Homo sapiens: one gene and its partners. The protein of the gene in region 1 interacts with the protein of each later gene in a pairwise test. Each region holds a gene or a part of one and is shown in the gene's direction. Other genes may lie near its edges.

Evidence for each region. Proteins that work in one complex are often made in the same cells at the same time.
Region 2: the proteins of LMNA (region 1) and FAM3B interact in binary tests that used the Homo sapiens proteins (3 or more experiments, as listed by UniProt).
Region 3: the proteins of LMNA (region 1) and TUT7 interact in binary tests that used the Homo sapiens proteins (3 or more experiments, as listed by UniProt).
Region 4: the proteins of LMNA (region 1) and SYCE1 interact in binary tests that used the Homo sapiens proteins (3 or more experiments, as listed by UniProt).

What each region holds. Positions count from the first base shown.
Region 1 is NC_000001.11:156,121,211-156,124,710, forward strand, and holds part of LMNA (lamin), read left to right. Parts: intron 1-3,500.
Region 2 is NC_000021.9:41,351,301-41,354,800, forward strand, and holds part of FAM3B (protein FAM3B isoform a precursor), read left to right. Parts: intron 1-3,500. UniProt on the Homo sapiens protein: Induces apoptosis of alpha and beta cells in a dose- and time-dependent manner.
Region 3 is NC_000009.12:86,291,911-86,295,410, reverse strand, and holds part of TUT7 (terminal uridylyltransferase 7), read left to right. Parts: exon of another isoform or gene 1-113; intron 114-3,500. UniProt on the Homo sapiens protein: Uridylyltransferase that mediates the terminal uridylation of mRNAs with short (less than 25 nucleotides) poly(A) tails, hence facilitating global mRNA decay. Essential for both oocyte maturation and fertility.
Region 4 is NC_000010.11:133,559,084-133,562,583, reverse strand, and holds part of SYCE1 (synaptonemal complex central element protein 1), read left to right. Parts: intron 1-2,430; coding exon 2,431-2,493; intron 2,494-3,223; coding exon 3,224-3,283; intron 3,284-3,500. UniProt on the Homo sapiens protein: Major component of the transverse central element of synaptonemal complexes (SCS), formed between homologous chromosomes during meiotic prophase. Requires SYCP1 in order to be incorporated into the central element.

The sequences.
Region 1 (3,500 bases):
GCTAATTTTTCTATTTTTAGTAGAGACCAGGTTTCACCATGTTACTCAGGCTGGTCTTGAACTCTGGGGCTTAAGCAGTCCACCCACCTTGACCTCCCAAAGTGCTGAGAGCCACTGAGCCTAGCCCAAATCCACGTTCTGATTCAAAGGGAAAGAAGAAGGGTGCAGCTAAACCTGGGGGGTGAGAAGTACTTAAAAAGCCCAAGAGAAACAAAAGAGAGAATAATTCCTCACTAGGACCCCCTATTGCCTTCCCACTATTGGTGCCCTTGCTTGGCACTTCCCCTGGCCTCCAGGAGTCTGAGACTTACTCTTCCATGGATGTGCCCATTGCCCCCACTTCCAGGTCCACCCCCCAGTGATTCGGTAGCTTAGTGTCTGCGCTGAAGCCCAGGACAGCTGGATGGACAACTGGTAGATCCCTTCACCTACCAACTGTGCTTTCTGCTCCCCTCCCCCTTGCTTCCCTCCTCCCCAGCCCCTCGCCACCCCTAGCAGCTGCAGCAGCCAAGACCAAGTCTTCAGAGACCCAGACACAAGGGCAGGGTTCATTCCATTCTCACCTCCTTGGGGTCCCAGTGTACTGATAGGCCGAACTCTAATATTATAGGAGATCTCTGGAAGATTGCAGGGTCTCTTATCCCTCAATAAGGGGCAAGGCAAGCCGGGCGCAGTGGCTCACGCCTGTAATCCCAGCACTTTGAGAAGCCGAGGGGAACAGATCACTTCAGGTCAGGAGTTAAGAGACCAGCCTGGCCAACATGGTGAAACCCTGTCTCTACTAAAAATACAAAAATTAACCAGAAATCGCTTGAACCCAGGAGGCAGATGTTGCAGTGAGCCGAGATCACGCCACTGCACTCCAGCCAGGGCGACAGAGCAAGATTCCGTCTCAAAAAAATAATACTAATAATAAATAAATAAATAAGGGGCAAGGTAGTCCACCAACAAAATGACAGGCAGTGTGATATAGTGGACACCCTAGCCCTCGGTGCCCTTAGTTCTGTGTGTGGCCCTTTCACTAAATTGCTGTGTGACCTTGAGCAAATCGCCTCCCCTTTCTGGCTTTCCTTAGCTGTAAAAGAAAGGGATTGGAGCGGAAAGTCTCCAGAGACCTTTTAGGTTCCAAAGTAGTACAGTGACCCACAAAGTGAGAAAACAGTCTTCTAAAATACCAAGTTATTAATAGTAAAATCAAATATAAATAATGTGAATATAGTTAATAGCTAATGTTGTTCTCAATAGAAATGTTTCCCACAAGCTGTGGAATTAAACATACTACCACATTTCTCTATTTCCCCGTGAAAGTTTGTTAGAAATGGTTAAATTGTGACATTACCCTCTTGGCAAATGTTTTGTTTTCATTGCTACTAGGAAAGGGCAACTCGTTTTCGATGCCTCTCCCTTCTGGACGGTGGAAAGGGCTGTGTCATAGAGTAGGAACGGGAGATGCGGCACAGGAATGGCTCCCATTGACCCGGGTTGGGGGCTAGGGCGAAGGCCTAGGAGAGGCAGAACTGTTACCTTAGAGCTGGCCAGGATTAGAGAACAGTGCCTGGAACCGGGGGGAGGGGCACGGTGACCTTGGGCTGCCCACCTTCTACCCTTCCAGCACCCATACTGGCTCCCCCAACCTGCGGCTGGGCTGGGAGGAGGTCTTGGCCCCTACCAATCCCTTAAGGAAGGGGAAAGAGTTTGGGAAGGGGAGTCCTCCCTTCACCCCTGCCTCCCCCAAGTTGTGAGAGAGGAAGCCGGAATCCTGCCTGCTGAAGCCAGGAATAATTCTGGCTGAGATCCCAGGCCCGGCAGGGGCGCTGAGTCATGGTAGAGGGCAGAGTGGAGAGTGGACAGGAGACCCTAAGCTTGTCCAGTCAGAAAAGCAGAGGCTGAGGGGTGGCCTTTTCTTGAGAACTACATTCAAGTTGCAGCAAGAAGGACAGTGGTCTGAATTTGACGGGGACAAATGGAAGGGAGATAGGACACATGAGTTCCTTTAGGTCTGGCTCAGGGGAGCTAGACTTCATTTCAAGGGGTCTAGGTTCTGGGCAGTTGAGAAGGAGGCTATTTGGGGTCACCAAGGCTCCCCTTTCTTCCCAAAGCTCTAACACTGCCACCTTCTGCTGGCTAGGAGAGAGCTGTGTCTTCTGAGGCTAGAGCTGGAATGCAGTGAGACCAGACTGCCTAGGTCCTCCCTCACTTCTTCTCCTGACCTTGGGGTGTGGCTCCCACTCTCTCCCAGTGTCCTCAGGGTTAATAACTATGTGCCACCAGATAGAGAGTTAAGGGGCTGCTGAATTGGCTTCTTGTGAAGGGAATCCCCTAAATGTCCCTCGTTTTGGTCACTGGCCTCCCTCCCGCCCCCTTCAGGACATTCTACTATCTTCTTAGGCCATCCCTCCCTCCTCCAGGCACTACTTCTTTTGCTCTATCCCCAAGCCCCACCCCTGCATTTTTGTGACAACACCGGAATGATTTCTAGAGAGAGAGGCCAGGAAGAAGGAAAGTGGCACTTGGCAGGAGACCTTGCAGGGGGCGGCTGGTGAGGAAGCCAGCCGCCCATTGTCCAGGACCCCAGTGCCCTGGCCTCCGGCCTCAGGCTTCTCCTGCCTCTGTACAATGCCACGTTGATACGCCCAGCAGCTGTGACTCAGGCCTGGCCCCCTGCCAGGCCCAGCACTTCTACTGGAGTTGCGTCTGAACATGTCAACAGGCTTCCTATCCCTCTCTCAGCACCAGTTCTCCCCACTTCAGCCCCTCCCTCTGCCTGGAATTAAAACCTGGCTTTGTCTTAGGGAAGGACAGCTGGGAGCCTAGTGGCTCTGGTAGGGGATCTGAGAGGCCTCAGACCCTAGGCATATTTGGCTGTTTGGCAGGTGTCACGCCCAAGGGAAGCGTGTGGAAGCAGAGCCATGCCTGCTGTGGGTGCACATGCCCGCGTGAGGGAGTCGGGGTGTTTCATCCTGGGGCACCTGTGGGCTTTTGAGGTGTATGATATTCAGAACTTCACAGGTTGGGGTTTGGGGAAGGCTCAAGGGGCTTCTAAGTCCCTGGAACAGCTGCCCCCCTCAGTTCCTCTCTCTCTCTCTCTTTTTTTTTGAGATGGAGTCTCGCTCTGTTGCCCAGGCTAGAATGCAGTGGCGCGATCTTGGCTCACTGCAAACTCCGCCTCCTGGGTTCAAGTGATTCTCCTGCCTCAGCCTCCCAAGTAGCTGGGACTATAGGTGCCCGCCACCATGCCTGGCTAATTTTTGTATTTTTAGTAGAAATGGGGTTTCACCATGCTGGCCAGGATGGTCTCAAACTCCTGACCTCGTGATCCACCCACCTTGGCCTCCCAAAGTGCTGGGATTACAGGCGTGAGCCACTGCGCCCAGCCTCAGTTCCTCTCTTTAAGGTCTCCTTTCCAGAGAGGGATAGCACCTCAAATGCCAGGGAGGGGAATTCTCCACATCCTGCCCTTACCCGAGTTGTGGCAGACCCACAGACTAGCCAAGAAACCA
Region 2 (3,500 bases), on another chromosome or scaffold:
TGTGTTTGGAAATGGTGGCTCCAAGTGAATTTCAGGAAAATGCCTGTTTTGCCCACCTGTGTCAGCTAAAAGTTATCCAAGTTACTACAGGAGTATAAAGACGAGACCTAAACACAGCAAGCAGTCAGTGCTGGAGAGTTACTAGAGGTTCTGTGGTTTGGGGGCGCTAAAGGATGTTTGCTCAAATGTTGGTGAGGTCTGGACTGGTAGCCAGGGCTTCAAGACAGGTCTTACCGAGACCTTGAGAGAAGTGCCACTGGAGGAATCATTTGTGTCTGTGTTACTTTGGCTATTCAGACTTGCAGGTGGTGTATTTCCCTAAGGGTGGTGTACCCATGTTGGGAGGGCCTCCTGAGTCCTCAGGGGTCTCCCCAGCCCCATGTTCACTCCCACTCCACCTGCTATTCCAGGAGTCAGCTTTCTAGGCACAGCGCCTGGGCCACTCTCATGCAGAGCCTTTAATGACCCCACTACCTGCTGAATTGAATTTTAAAGTATAAGGAACTTCAAAGATTATTCCATCCAACCTCTTGGTTTTATAGGAGGAAGGAAACTGAGAAATAAATAAGGACAGGAGTCTTGGAAGTGAGGGTAACCTGGTTCAGATCTGGACTTGGCCACCCCGACTGCATGACCTGAGTTTGGCACTTCATAGGCCTGCGCCTCTTCTGCACCCTGAACTGTGGGTAGCGGAGCCTGCCTTGCTCCCTGTGTGTGTGACAAGCATGATGCAGCAGGAGGAGCCATCATTCTCATCGCCTCCAGCATGGTCTGAGTCTTGTCTCTGGTGATCCTAACTGGAGCACAGACCCTTGTCTTCAGCCCCACTCAGCCCCTCCCATGCTTTGTGTGCTCAACACTCCAGCAAAGCCTCATGAGTGGCTGCTCTTACCATACCCTGCAGCGCTTTGCCACTATGCTGGCTCTGTTCAGGTCTCGTCTTTATATTCCTGCTGTAACTTTCCACATGTGGACCTCTGCACATGCCTCCCTCCATGCAGGGGGTGCCTTCACAAAGCCTTAAAGATCCACCTCAAGGCTGTTTCTTCTGAGAAGCCTCTCTGGCCCTGCCACTGCTGCCCGTAATGCCCATGGCATTTTGTACCTTCCCTGAGAAAGAAAGGGAAGGGAATGGAAGGAAGGAAAAAGGGAAGGGAGGGGAGGGGAGGGAAGGGAAGGTGCATTATCACATTAGAAAGGAAGAAGTACTTAGGCCAGGCGCAGTGGCTCACCCCTGTAATTGCAGCACTTTGGGAGGTCAAGGCAGGCGGATCACGAGGTCAGAAGTTCAAGACCAGCCTGGCCAACATGGTGAAATCCCGTCTCTACTAAAAATACAACAAATTAGCCAGGCATGGTGGCGGGCGCCTGTAATCCCAGCTACTCAGGAGGCTGAGGCAGGAGAATCGCTTGAAACCAGAAGGCAGAGGTTGCAGTGAGCCAAGATAATGCCACTGCACTCCAGGCTGGGCAACATTAGCGAAACTCCATCTCAAAAATAAATAAATAAATAAATAAATAAATAAAGGAAGAAGTAAAACTATTTCTGTTTGCAGGTGACATGATTTTATGTATACTAGGCTGGTGCAAAAGTAATTGCACCAACTTAATGGAAATCCTAAGAGGTCCACTAAAAAACTATTTGAACTTATACCAAGTTTAGCGAAGTTGCAGGATACAAAAATCAATGGAAAAACTCAATTATACTTCTCTTTACTTGCAATGAACAACCTGAAGATGAAATTCAGAAAGCAATTGTATTTATAACAGTATCAAAAAGAATAAAATTCCTAGGAATAAAGTTAACGTAGGAGATGCAAGACTAATACACTGAAAACAATAAAACATGTTGAAAGAAATTGAGGACTTAAAAAAAGATATTCCATGTTCATGGGTCAGAAATTTTAATATTGTTAAGATGTCAATACTTTCTTAATTGATCTACAGATTTAACACAATTCCTACTAGAATCCAAGTTGATATATTTTGTAGAAATTGACAAGTTCATCCTAAAATTCATATGGAAATTCAAGAGACTCAAATAACAAAAACAGTCTTGAAAAAGAACAAAGTTGCAGGGCTCACATGTTCCAATTTCAAAACATAACACAAAGCTGCTGTGATTGAGATACTGTCACTCTGGCATAAAGATGGGCATACAGAGAAATGAAATAGAATTGAGACTCCAGCAGATGTGCATGTTCTCACATTTTTGATCAATTGACTTTAGGCAACAGTGCCAAGATTATTTAATGGGGAATGAATAGTCTCTTCAACAAATGGTATTGGGAAAGCTGGATATTCACATGGAAAAGAATAGACTTGGACCCTACCTCATACCATATACAAAAATTAAGTAACAATAAATCAAATACGTAAATGTAATGGCTAACACTATTAAACTCTTAGAGGAAAACAGAGGCATAAATTTTTGTGACTTTGGTTTAAGCAATGGTTTCTTAGATATGACACCACTAACAACAAAAGAAAAGTAAGTTGCCCTTCAGCAAATTAAAACTTTTGTCCTTCCAGCAAAAGAAACTATCGAGTAAACAGACAACCTTTAGAATGGGAGAAAATTTTTGCAAAGTACGCATCTAACAAAAGTCTAATATCCAGCATCTAAAGGAACTTAAACAAATTTACAAGAAAAAATATCCCATTAAAAAGACAAAGGACATGAACAGACATTTATCAAAAGAAGACATCCATGTGGCCAACAAGCATATGAAAAAAAGCTCAACATCACTGATCCTTAGAGAAATGCACATCAAAACCATGATGAGATGCCATCTCACACCAGTCAGAATGGCTATTATTAAAAAGTCAAAAAATAACAGATGCTGGCAAGGTTGCAGAGAAAAAGGAATGCTTTTACACTGCTGGTGGAAGTGTAAATTAGTTCAACCTTTGTTGAAGACATGTGGCAATTCCTCAGAGACCTAAAGACAGAAATACTATTTGACCAGCAATCCCATTACTGGGAATATTCCTAACAAATTATATTTGTTATAAGTAAAATTTAATATTCAAAAAGCAAAGGAATAGAAATTGTTATATTATAAAGACACGTACTCACATATGTTCATTACAAAACTGTTCACAATAGCAAAGACATGGAGTCAACCCAAATGCCCATCAATGATAGACTGAATAAAGAAAGTGTGACACATATTCATCATGAAATAATATGCAGCCATAAAAAAGAATGAGATAATGTTCTTTGCAGGGACATGTATGGAGCTGGAGGCCATTATCCTTAGCAAACTAATGCAGGAACAGAAAATCAAGTGTCACACATTCCTACTGATAAGTAGGAGCTAAATGATGAGAATACATGGTCACATAGAGGGGAACAACACACAATAGAGGGGCCTATTGGAGGCTGGAAGGTGGGAGGAGAAAGAGAATCAGGAAAAATAACTAATGGATACTAGGCTTAATACCTGGGTGATGAAATAATCTGTACAACAAACCCCTATGATGCATGTTTACCTATG
Region 3 (3,500 bases), on another chromosome or scaffold:
TTTTAAAGTTGATATCTAAATCTTTCATTGTAGTTGCAAAGCATGTAATTTCTTGGGGGAGGGGGGCTGTAAATATTGACATTTTAAAATAAAACTTTTAAATCAGCCTTAAATGTATCAAATGAAGTATAAATATTATTGCTTTTTCATACCCACCATCATTTATATACAGCTCAGCTCTTCTTTAACAGGCAAAAATTATATATCATTTCCCTTTCCTCCTTGAATTCCTTTGTTGTACTTCTACAGAATTTCAGCATAAGATGATATATTTTGTTTGTTTGTTTGAACTTCTCCCTGAGATGATATATTTTTATTACACATATTTTCAAATATTTTATTGAGTAGCTTATCATGCTTATCTGCAACAAAAATGACAGGGGCAACAAGCTAGGCCCTATTTTCTATAAATTGAATTTTTAAGCTTTTTATTAAATCTCAAAGGATGAAAATATCTTCTATATTGAGTTTTCACAATTATTAGAATATATAATTGATCAAAACAAATGTTACAAATTTTAATTAAAAATTACTTTTTTTTTTTATACCTAATGCTAAATGACGAGTTAATGGGTGCAGCACACCAACATGGCACATGTATACATATGTAACAAACCTGCATGTTGTGCACATGTACCCTAAAACTTAAAATATAATAATAATAAACAAATATTAAAATAATAATAATAATTACTTTTTATGTTTACTTACAACGACTTTAATAAGAAAGATGAGATTTTTTCCCTATACATTCACATATCTTTGGGTCGACATTATTTACTGCGTGAATGAAACTGTTCCTTTTCTATCCCTAATTTTTTTTTATAGTTGATAAAAATGGAAAAACCCCAATATTCTTTATGATAGCAAATTAAAAATAATAGAAATACTTTGAGTTTGGGAATAGAAGATATATTACAATAGTGCCACTCAATTATTTTGATTCCTTCTTAATTACATGACAAAAAATCACAGTGATGTATCATCAAAAATTATTTGTAATGATCATCCACTATCAATGTAATTTTATGAAAGCTAAAAATTTGGATTTTTATTAGAGGCATTTACATTCACCACAGACACCAGCATTTTGTTTGCCTCTCCTCTTCTCTGGGTTTTTTTTTTTTTTTTTTTTTGCCTCATGGCAATACACCACAGTAGGATTTGGCTGGTTAGGAGATACGCCTTTCTTTTGTAAAGTAGATAAATAATTGTGAAAGGGGAATTAGAAAGGACAGGTGGAGTGATTCCTGAAAACCAGCCTAAGCCTTGACCACAAAGGCATTCACAGACATATAATTTTTAAGAAAGAGTACACATGGAAGTTGAAGAGCTAGAAATTGACTCTCTTAAAACTATCCTTGCGGCCGGGCGCCATGGCTCACGCCTATAATCCTAGTACTTTGAGACACCGAGGCGGGTGGATCACCTGAGGTTGGGAGTTCCGAGACCAGCCTGGCCAACATGGTGAAACCCCATCTCTACTAAAAAGACAGATTTAGTCAGGTGTACTGGTGTGCGCCTATAATCCCAGCTGCTCAGGAGGCTGAGGGCAGGAGAATCACTTGAACCTGGGAGGTGGAGGCTGCAGTGAGCCGAGATCAAGCCACATGCCCTGTCAGGTAGGCTCAGGAACACATGGGCCCAGGTTGGAAGAGCACCATTTATATAAAACACTCTAATGAATAGTCGCATATTTGTCTAGTTATTTCATCAGGATAAATTCCCGCTCATAAGAATGATAGGTTTAAAAGTATGCACATTTTGACAGTGATGCCAATATTCCCAAATTGTGATTGTTGACAATCCCGGAGAGTCAGTGACATTGTTTCCCATACCCTGACTTCATTGGGATAGTCTTTTTTCATTTTACACCTGCTTGAATTCCTATTATTACCATTGAACTTTACCATTTTTTTTTACATGATTTCATCTATCTTTCTTTGTACTTTTGTATTGGAGTATTCTTGACAGGGTCTCACTGTCGCCCAGGCTGGAGTGCAGTGGCTCAATTATAGCTCACTACAGCCTTGAACTCTCAAGCGATCCTCCCATCTCAGTCTCCCGAGTAGCTGGGACCATAAGCTAGTGAGACCACACTCAGCTGATTTTTAAAATTTTTTTGTAGAGACAGGGTCTCGCCATGTTGCCCAGGCTCGTCTTGAACTCTTGGGCTCAGATGATCCTCCTCAGTTTCCAGAAGTGTTGGGATTACAGGCATGAGCCACTCCACCCGGCCCAGTTTATTATTTTAACCTCACTTATATGTGTTTGCCATACAGATGAATGTTTGTTTTAATAGTGTGATCTAGCCAACTTTTGCATGGTTTCTTATCATGCTTACCAAATTTTATAAATGCCATATTATTCCTCTATATTATATAAAAATTCATTCATGTGTTATTTCTAGTACTTTTGTTTTTTTACATGCAAATATTTTATATTCAGGTATAGTGAAGATTTTTCTGATATAGTAGATTACATGTTTAAATGCTACAGTAGTAAAACTACTAGTACTATACTTACCAAAGGGTTTAACATTTTGGGAAAAACAGAAACGGGCAAGTAGCAGTATAACAATAACTAACTTACCTTCTAGAGAATTGGCATTGTTTTTCAATTTTTTTTTTCTTTTAGAGAGAAGGGTTTCACTCTGTCACCCAGGTAGGAGTGCAGTGGCACAATCATAGCTCACTGCAACCTCGAACTCCTGGGCTCAAGAAATCCTCCCACCTCAGCCTCCCAAGTAGCTCACAGGCATGAGCCACCTGTGCCTGGCTCAATCTCTTTTTTTTTTTTTTTTAATAAAAGACCTGTCACTGAGGTAGTGGAAGTGCCTTGAGTACCATCACCAACATCGTTTCCTCTGTCATGTCCCTCTCAACCCTAGAAACATCCATTATTATGAGGTTAAGTCTCCAAGTTTCCTTTTTTTTTTTTTTGAGACAAAGTCTCCCTCTGTCACCCAGGCTGGAGTGTAGTGGTGTGATCTCTGCTCACTGCAGCCTTCACCTCCTAGGTTCCAGTGATTCTTCTGCCTCAGCCTCCCAAGTAGCTGGGATTACAGGTGTGAGCCACTGCACCCAGCCCCTTCTGGTTCATTTTTTATACTCTTTCATATGTACTCCTTAACATATGTTTCTCCTTGGTGAATTTTTAAATTAAAATGGCATATCATGGCATATAATAAGAATGTCCTACAAACCAGGGATGGTGGCACGGGCATGCAGTCTCAGCCACTCAGGAGGCTGAGGCAGGAGGATGGCTTGAGCCCGGGAGATCTGACACTGTAGTATGCAATGATAGTGCCTGTGAATAGTCACTGCACTGCACTCCAGACTGGGCAACAAGCTAGACCTCATCTATTTTAAAACTTTTATATGGTGCTGTTTTTATATTTGGGTTTTTTTCTTTACAGTATTCCACCCTGTGAATAAAAAATATTCTATGTATTTATTACCCAGTTTTAGGTTGTATTCAATATTCTGCTGTTATTAACA
Region 4 (3,500 bases), on another chromosome or scaffold:
GTGTTTACACTCTTGGGGATACACAAGGAAAAACAATTTTCTCCACAAAAGGGAGTCTGGTGCCTTCTCCATTTTCTTTAAGGAACCTCAGGCTATTATAAACTATTTTAGGTCCCTCATGCAGCAGAGCGTTCAAGGGAAAGGAGAGACAGCAGAACTATATGAAGAAAATAGCATTCAGTCAACTGAAAAGAAAAAAAACTTTTGCCCAAAAAACACAAGGTCCTAGGAGAGAGAAAAAAGAAAAATCATGAAGCCCTTTTAAATACACACACACACACACACACACACACACACACACACACACACACACACACACACATTGGATGTTAGCTTTTAATTAAGATGACTTTTAACCATTTGAGTTTCTTTTTAAAAAATTTTTAAGATCTCATCAACATATTTCAGCTAGGACAAATATCTGCTATTTCAGAAGTACCAAGTATCAAACCAGAAAGGTCTTGATTTAGGAACCAAACCCAGGCTGTCATGGAAAAAAGAAGACAGAACCTTAGCTATGGAACTGCAGTTGGGGTGACAATCCTTTCTCTTTCAGTTTGGCCTGGCTAGCAAAAAGGTGGCCTTGTTATGTAAATAAATCCCCTTAAGTAGTCAAAATCAAAAATCTTCCCCCCCTTTTTTCCTTTTGCTGGCTGTTTTTTCTTCCCCCACCACCCCTTTTCTGGTGGGAATTTAGCCACTTCAGAGGCCTTGTTCCACATAATTTGGAACTTTCCTTTGGATTTGATCAAGTCAGAATTGGCCAAACCCAATAGGAAAAGGACCAAAACAACAAAAACAGAAAGAAACAACAACAAAAAAAAATACCAGTTAAGCAAAACAAACAAATGATCACACAACTTGTATGGTTACTGGACACTCTAATGATAAGGAAAAATTAAGACCAGCTGGTTGTTAATTTTACCTTTAGCCAAGACAAACCCCAATTCAGTTACTTACCTAGGGATGGGTCTTAGGCTGAAGACTGCTCTCTATCATCTTAGAAGCAGGAAAAAAACCCTCAAACTTGTCTTCCCTGTTGGGAGCGAGTTCAAACTCCAGAAAGGAACTTTCATGGAAGCAGGAAAACTTGCCTTCCTTGTTGGAAGCAAGAAAAACTCCAAAAAAAGAGTAGAGTTGTTTAGAAAAATAAACTTTGGATCTGGAGCGAATTTTGGGAAATGAGGGATTCCCTGGATGGGGGACTTCCAGAACTCAGCAACTTGTCATATTAGTTTGAACCATAAAGATAGCTCAAGCTGCTAGCAAGCACTGATAGGATATTTGTCAAAGGTCAGGGGCACCTCTACTCAGAATCCCTTTGTGGTTGCCAAAATGTGAAACCCAAAAATCTGAGACAGGTCTCAGTCAATTTAGGAAGTTTATTTTACCAAAGTTAGGGATGCATGCCTGTGACACGGCCTCAGGAGGTCCTGATGACCTGTGCCCAGGGTGGCAGGGTGGTCAGAGCACAGGTTGGTTTTATGCTTTTTAGGGAGACATGAGACACAAATCAACATATGTAAGATGAACATTGGTTCGATCTGGAAAGGTGGGACAACTCAAAGCAATGATGAGACAACTTGAAGCAGGGGGGTTTGCTTCAAGGTCATAAGTAGATAAAAGACAAATGGTTGTATTCTTTTGAGTTTCCGATTAGCCTTTCCAAAGGAGGCAATCAGATATGCATTTATCTGAGTAAGAAGAAGGATGACTGAATTATTTTCAGATATTTATTTTACAAAATCAGATATGCATTTATCTCAGTGAGCAGAGGGATGACTTTGAATTGATTTATTTTCAAAGATTTATTTATAAAAAGATTTATTTTCCTTTCACAATGTTAATGCCATAAATAGTAATTTCTTAGATCTACTAATTTTAGTGTTAAAAATAGGTTCCAATAGTGATTATAAAAAATTAACATGAAATATTTTATGGGGAAATTTCAGGGTTAGTATTGGTTGTATGTAGGAAAGCTTGTTTGTATTTATATATGTTTTTAACCTAACATCTTAATGCATTTTGTTACTAATCCTTATGGTTTTGTAGAAAACTCTCTAAGAACTTCCTAGATTATGTCATCTGCCAGTTACAGTGATTTTTGACTCCTTGCTCCAGTTTTTTATACCCTCATTTTTTTTCTTGAATTATATCAGGAGCTTTGATCTTACTTTGAACAGCCTCAGCAGTGAGAGTGCACCCCTGCCCTCACCCAGAGTTTTACAAAGAGGATATCTGGTATAATTTTACCTTATAGGGAAAAGCTGACCATGGAGGAGCCCGATTCATCTAGTGTACTGTCCACCTCAGGACAAGAAGAAGGGGCACCACTCTGGCTGGAGACCTGCCCTCAGCCTGCCTCAGTCTCAGCCCAGGGGTGGCCTCTCGCCCTGCTTGATTCTGAAATGTTTGGTTTTGTCTCCACAGGGCAGGACACGTCCTCACAGAAAATTGAAGACTTGATGGAAATGGTGCAAAAGCTGCAGAAAGGTCGTGTGTCTCCTTTGTGTGAGGCACAGCCTGAGGTTTGGGGCCAGGCAGATGTGGGTTTAATTTCAGGCCCCACAATGTACGAATTTGGGAAATAATCCTCTTCACCTTCTCTTTCTTTTAAAACTTAATTACTTAAACTAAAAATAGGGCCCCATGTTTCAAAATTAAAGAAGCAAAAGGGTATAGAAGGCAAAATGTTTTCCCAAAACCCTGTCCCAAACCTCTCGCTGGTCACCCATCTGGCTCCACTGCAGTCCATTAGATCCAGAAGTTGCCGCCTTCACTTCCCTTCCTTCCCCCTCACCCGCTACTCCCTCTTTGCTCGCTAGGCTCCTGCCAGCCATGTTCCCACCTCATGATGGGTCTTTGCACTGACTACCTCCCAACCCCACCCAAATTGCTGCAGGGCCTGCCCCCCACCACTTGATTTGGGGCCCTCAGGTCCCTTCCCATATCTCAGGAGCACTTCCCACTCCTTTGCTCTTTAGCCTCCCTTGGCCTACTTCATTTCTCTTGAACACGGTTACCGCAGCCCCATTCGGTATCTTATTGTGTCTGTTCCCAGTCTTGCCCACCCAGAACGTGAGCCCCGTGAGGGCCCCACAGAGCACCTGCTTGCAGGAGGTACTCAATAGATCTGTGTTGCGTGAAAGCAGCAGAGACACAAGGCTGGCAACCGCCCCAACTCTGCCTGCCCTGTCAACTCAACCTCCTTTCCTCCGTGCAGTGGGAAGCCTAGAGCCCCGAGTTGAGGTCCTGATTAACCGGATTAATGAGGTCCAGCAAGGTGAGTTCAGGGGCCTTGGCTGCCAGCTAGGACCAGCTGCATGGTTTGCGGGGCTCAGTGCCAAGTGAGAATGCAGGGTCCCTTGTTCCAAAGTTACTGGTTATTCACAACAGCAACAGCAGAGCCTTAAATTAAGTACAGGGCATTTCAGCATGCGACTGCCATAGTTACATGCCCATGATCCTGGCCCTGCTATCAGCAGAGCCTGGCAAGGAGA